Regions from separate parts of the Homo sapiens genome. Here region 1 is reported to be linked to region 2. The links are microRNA targets in miRTarBase. Many come from high-throughput screens and were not tested one by one. Region 2 holds a microRNA gene; the other region holds the end of a gene's coding sequence.

Evidence for each region. Region 2 holds the annotated microRNA hsa-miR-6825-5p (UGGGGAGGUGUGGAGUCAGCAU, at 1,911-1,932, shown strand). A microRNA usually pairs through its seed, bases 2 to 8, with sites in the 3' UTR of a target mRNA and lowers its output. Matches are read on the target gene's strand: a 7mer-m8 pairs with bases 2 to 8, a 7mer-A1 pairs with bases 2 to 7 and ends in A, and an 8mer does both.
Region 1: the mRNA of TERB2 is a reported target of hsa-miR-6825-5p. Seed matches in the 3' UTR shown: 7mer-m8 at 891-897.

The regions. Positions count from the first base shown.
Region 1 is chr15:44,978,082-44,981,144 of GRCh38, forward strand. TERB2 (telomere repeat binding bouquet formation protein 2) reads left to right here. Exons shown (of 7, transcript NM_152448.3): 7 at 408-1,148. The coding sequence ends at 547. Among named protein-coding and RNA genes, the nearest start is that of TERB2, 23 kb to the left of the region's middle. RefSeq lists a silencer at 1,997-2,197.
Region 2 is chr3:127,574,115-127,577,236 of GRCh38, reverse strand. MIR6825 (microRNA 6825) reads left to right here and starts at 1,906; the gene lies at 1,906-1,971. It overlaps TPRA1 (transmembrane protein adipocyte associated 1), which reads left to right. Exons shown (of 11, transcript NM_001136053.4): 4 at 161-247; 5 at 344-416; 6 at 541-620; 7 at 1,187-1,297; 8 at 1,428-1,488; 9 at 1,732-1,834; 10 at 1,972-2,052. RefSeq lists enhancers at 1,202-1,780, 1,781-2,360 and a silencer at 1,748-1,927.

The DNA.
Region 1 (3,063 bases), not on the chromosome of region 2:
GCCTGCTGGAACAGGGAAGATGAACTGTTTGCACTGTTAGTAGCTAGTTGGATGGATAGTTCTAAGTGATTACCGTCTAAGCTAGAAACACTTCCCAGTTATTTTTATCTAAGTTCTTTTATGTCCTAGCCCCAACCTAGACATCACAATCTCAATAGTCAAAGCAGCTTTAATCCACCTTTTAATATTTTAAAAGGTGGCAGAAAGTTGTGGGAGGGGAAGAGGAGGTGTTCCCGGATAATTATAAGGTTTCATGGAGAATCTTCTCACTGGTATTATTTCTTCTTTTTACTTCTTTTCTAAAAACATTCTTTAGAAGTCTTAACTCTAATAAATCAAAGACACTGAAAAGCAAATAGTATGAGCGGGTTTTAAGTATATATCTTTTTTTAAATTTTATTTTGTAGGTTATATATCAATTGATGCCATGAAGAAATTCCTTGGGGAGCTACATGACTTCATTCCTGGAACCTCAGGATATTTGGCATATCATGTTCAAAATGAAATTAATATGTCTGCTATAAAAAACAAATTGAAGAGGAAATAGTAAATTAAATTGTAAATACCTTGGCATTTATTTTCTATAAAATATTATACAGATGTGCATATCATAAAATGCTCCCTTTTGGTACTGGGGGATAGTGAAATGGGAAATAATTTTTCTGTTTCTCAAAGTATATCTTTAGGAAATACAGAATCATTTTGGTTCTGTGTTTTGACATTTTTCCCCTAGCTTTTAACAACATGTTCAAATATTCTCAATGCACAGTTGTTAATGAGTAATTGCCGTTAAAATATATTTCATAAGAAGTCTCAATCTCAAACTCTCCATCTCTCAATCCTCCTCCTCCTCCTCTTTCTTGCTTTCTCTTTTCCCTCTCTCTTTCTCTCCTCCCCTTCTCTCTTTCTGTCTTTCAAATGTTCTTTTGGCTTTAACATTCTATTAATTATATTTTTTCTAGATTGAATACTGTGAATGCTAAGTTTTATTAATCTGGTCATCTTATTTTGATTTTAAAAATTAGGATGCTAGTTGCATTCTGAATTACTGTTTCTGGTTTGAAACATGGAGAAAAACATTTTAATAATTCATATTTCATGTTGGATGGTTTCTAATAATAAATATCTCAAAAGTGACTTAACATAAACAGACTATGAGTGTTATGTCTTGTTAGATGAACCTGCAAGTCACCTTAGAATCACAGTTCTAGAATGGAACTTAAAGAACGAGTCCAGTTCACTTATTGTTTTTAATGAGGAAATAAGGACCTTGAGAAGATGTCTTACTTAGGGGGACTAACTGGGGGCCAAAACAGAATTGGAACACAACCATCTTGATTTTCTAGGCAAGTGCTTCCCCACTCTCCCAAATAGCATACGCTGTAGCTTCTGTGCCAGGTACAATACAACTGCAGATCCGCAAAGCAGACCCAGAAACAAGCCAACATGCTTGCCTTTTAATAAGCTGAAATAGTGAGGGAGAAGAAAAGGAAAAATCAGTTAGGCAGACCACTAAGGCTAGTCTTCTGAGAAAGAGCCTGAAAAAATCACAGCTACAGGCATAAATAGAGCAGCCTGGGGAAAAACCAAACTGCACCTGCACTGATAAGAAGGCAAGGCCCAGCATAGAGCCTTTGTTCTTTGTGTGATTAGCAGGCTCTCAGGAAAAAAATTCCTCCCATTTTCAGGCATTTACATGGTGGGCTCTGTGGGAACTTGCACAGGGAGGTGAGGGGCTTGCCTAAAACAGACCCACAGTTACACAAACAAGAGAAGCTGCACTTTGTGCTTACCCAAGATATACAAAGATAAGGAGAGTTACATACACAGCTTCATAGATAAGGGAAGTTACACAAACAGCTACAGAGTTGAGGGGAGTTTCACATAAAAGCTTTTGGATTCAACTGTAAAAACAGCAGCTCACTCGGGTCCGTTCTCCACTGTGGAGAGCTTTCTTTCTTTTGCTTATAAAAGTTTTGCTCCAACCTCACCCTTGTGTCCAGCCTCCTTAATTTTCTTGGTTGTGAAACAATGAGCTCAGATAACACCTCAAACTACAAGACCATTGACCCTAGACAGTTTCATTAGTATTGAGTTGTAGTCATTTCAAGAAGGCAGTTTGTTATCTTTATTCATATGGCCATGCTATATAGAGTCTGATTGGTTTATTACATTTTTGTGTCTTATAAATGACAGTGTTATTTGTGAAGCTATCATCTTAGAACTGTACTTCTTCCAAGCAAGTGAATACCAGCTGTAGAATTATCTAAAGAAAATGCACACTTTTTTTTAGTGCTTGGACCATTTGGGTATATGTGGGCCCTGGCCCTGGCCCTTCTCCCCTGACTCAAATTTCATAAGACAAAATTTTAACACTACTTTTGGCATCAGCATTTGAGAATTATATTTTTCCATATGATAACTTTTCCTTATTTATATTCACATCTGTGGTTAAGCCCTTCAGATCTTGTAAATTACACAAAAAACAGAAAAGACAAAAACCTTAAATGTTAATTATCTTTCCCTGAAACACATTTCTCCTGAATACTTTATCGTAGTTACATACCATTGATTGTTTCTTGTATAGAAACCAAGCCTGTCTGTAAATCTTAAATTAATGACTAAGAGGATTAAGTAAATGTACACCAAGTTGTGTATGTTGGAATTTCTTGAAAGAGAGTATCCAGTATTTTTCTGATATATTATGCATGTGTAAATTAAAAATTATAATGAAACAGTTTTTTAGGTTTGTTTCCCAAAGTGATTATATCTTTAGGTGTATATAATAAAGCAAAATGTAACCTATATCCTTGAAATATTGTCAGGCACAATAAAATCAGTGATAACATAAGCCTTCCAGGAATTAGAAGCATATGAAAAAATAAAATAAGCAAAGTTGAACTAGTTTTAAGTTTATTGTCTTAATGGGAAGTGAAAAGCAATATGATCTTAGTTACTGCTCATGTAACCTTTTTTAAAAAATTGCTTTAATGTAGCTGATGGATATTGCCTCTGAATATCCTTATAAAAAATGTTCTCTGGCCGGGCACGGTGGCTCAGGCC
Region 2 (3,122 bases):
GAGTGATCCCCACCTCCCTGTGTCCCACCCTGACTTTGCGCCTTCCTCCTTTCCGACCTCAGGAATCAAAGGCTCCTGTAGATATGGGGGTGGGCTTGCTGCCCCTGCCGATGCAGAGGCTCTTGTTCCCTGACTGCCACACCACTCCCTTGCCCACCAGGTGTTTGTGGTGGCGCTGGTGGGCATTGCCCGGGCCGTGGTATCCATGACGGTGAGCACCTCGAACGCTGCAACTGTTGCTGATAAGGTGCGGCTGGGCCCTCTGAGGGAGGCCAGGGAGGCCTGGCCTGGGGTGGGCTGGGGATGCTGGTCCAGGCTGACGCTGTGCCCACTCTGCGTGCAGATCCTGTGGGAGATCACCCGCTTCTTCCTGCTGGCCATCGAGCTGAGTGTGATCATCCTGGGCCTGGCCTTTGGTGTGTGTACCGCTGGGCTCTTGGGCCCTGGCGATGCTCTCCCCTGCCCCTCCCTGGCTGTGGGCTGACTCTGGAGTGGTCACCTGGGCTGGCTCCTGCCTGCTGACCAGCATGTTTCTTCCAGGCCACCTGGAGAGTAAGTCCAGCATCAAGCGGGTGCTGGCCATCACCACAGTGCTGTCCCTGGCCTACTCTGTCACCCAGGTAAGAGGGTGAGTGTGGGCAGGGGACGCTAGGAGTCAGGGCACCAGGCACCCACTGCTTCTGGGTCTGGGTCAGGTTTCCAGTCTTTATCACCTTCAGAGTTCTCAAAACTTTGCACCTGAGAAATCACATGGGGTGCTTGTTACCGAGGCACATTCTGGGGTCCCCTGGAGATTTGGATCCAGTGGGCCAGGGCGCCAGGATGGGAGGCTCAGGACTTGCCGTTTTAATAAGGAGTTCAGGTAGGGATGGTGCAGGTCCGCAGACCCCCCTGAGAAGCATGCATCTAGAGGCCCCTTTCTTAGATTGGGGGCAGGGACTGCACCTTGTCCATCTCTGCCCCCTTCCCCATGTGACTCAGCCCAAGACTGGGCCGGCTCTGGATGCTGCAATCAGTTGGGCAGGACATGGCCAGGGAGCAGACTGGGGCAGGTGAGTTGAGGGTCAGGCCAAGAGGCTGAACTTGGTGTGGTGGAGAGCTTAGGGGGCTTTGCATCAGGGAAAGCCCCTGGGAGAGAGAAGCCTTGAGATCCTCTCCCTTCCTCCCTTCCTGCTTGCCCCTGCAGGGGACCCTGGAGATCCTGTACCCTGATGCCCATCTCTCAGCTGAGGACTTTAATATCTATGGCCATGGGGGCCGCCAGTTCTGGCTGGTCAGCTCCTGCTTCTTCTTCCTGGTGAGGTTCAGGCTGGGGCAGCTGGGGTGGCTGGGGCCTTAGGGCCAGGTAGGGATTGGATTCCTGGGTTTCTGGCTGTGGGTCTGGGCTGGCGCCCCCAGCACCTTCTCAGCCCTGCCTGTCTCTGTAGGTCTACTCTCTGGTGGTCATCCTTCCCAAGACCCCGCTGAAGGAGCGCATCTCCCTGCCTTGTGAGCAGCTGGCCGGCGGCTCTGGGACAGGCGGGGATGGGAGGGAGTCTACCGGGCCACTGTAGAGCTGGTAGCTGGGAGCTGGAGCTGTAGAGTTCCAGGCTGGGAGCTGGAGAGCCCTGGGTGAGAGGGAGGCCTAGAGGGGCCCCGGGGGACACACCAGGCTTGAGGGTAGTAGGTGCTGGAGGCAGAGCCTGGCCTGTCCAGGGTGGGACCTCACGACCCACCCTGTCCGGCCCCCAGCTCGGAGGAGCTTCTACGTGTATGCGGGCATCCTGGCACTGCTCAACCTACTGCAGGGGCTGGGGAGTGTGCTGCTGTGCTTCGACATCATCGAGGGGCTCTGGTGCGTGGGGGCCGCAGGGTGTCTGCCTCGTGGGGGCATGGGAAGTGGGCGGCAGGGTGTCCACCCGCTGGGGGCATGGGGAGGTGTGGAGTCAGCATGGGGCTAGGAGGCCCCGCGCTGACCCGCCTTCTCCGCAGCTGTGTAGATGCCACAACCTTCCTGTACTTCAGCTTCTTCGCTCCGCTCATCTACGTGGCTTTCCTCCGGGGCTTCTTCGGGTGAGTCTGTGGCCGCCGGCGCCCCCGCGTGGCTGCCGGCGGAACTGCGCCTTCTTCCAGCATGGGTGTGAGGATTGAAGCTGAGAGGCTGTGTATGCATACAGTGCGCATGCGCACGCACATACATACATGCACTTGGGCACACACATACAGATACACATGCACATGCACACAGATATACGCACACCCACCCACATGTGCATGGACACGTGCACATGCACACACGGATGCACAAGCATGCACACATGCACATGCACACACAAACACGCACATACGGATACACACGGGCATATGCACACAAACATGCACGTGCACACCCACATGCATGCATACACACATGAACACGTGCTCAACATATACATACATGTAGATATATGCACATATCCACATATACATACATATATATGCACATTGTATGTACAGTACACACAGACATACTCTCCCCACGAGAGAGAGAGTGACTATGCACGGTGTTCTACATTGCTGGTTTTTATTTAATAATATATTAACTCATTCATTCGCAAGCATTCATTGAGCACCTACTGTGTGCCAGACACTGCTAGAGCCAGAAGATGCGAGGCCCACAGCGGATGCAAATCCTGTCCTCACAAAGCTTGTACCCTGTTGGGGGAAGACTTAAGTGGGGAGCAGGTTTGGGGTGGGAAGTCAGTTGGATTCTCTGGGGGTGAGTACACTGCTGTGCACATGTGCATCTGCAGAAGCGTCTGTGAGATGGGATGCTGAAGACATGGGATTGGGGGTCCCACTCCAGACCTTAATGTGGTCGGAATGTGGGTGTTTTGTCCCCCCTTTCTCACCTGCCAGGTCTTGTGGGGAGGGGATCAGCCTCCCACCTGGGTGAAGCTGGGAGAGGGCCAGACTGGTCCATGGCCCCAGCTTGGATCTTTGCACACAATTTCTCCCCTGAGCCTCAGGCTCCTTTTTGTAAATTGGGTGTAGTGTGTCCCCCTTGGAGAGTTGCCCTGAGGGCCGAGGGACGAGGTCAGAGTGGAGTGGGTGGTAACATGAGCAGCAGGGGTCACAGGAGTGGGGGCGGAGGCCACAGCCAA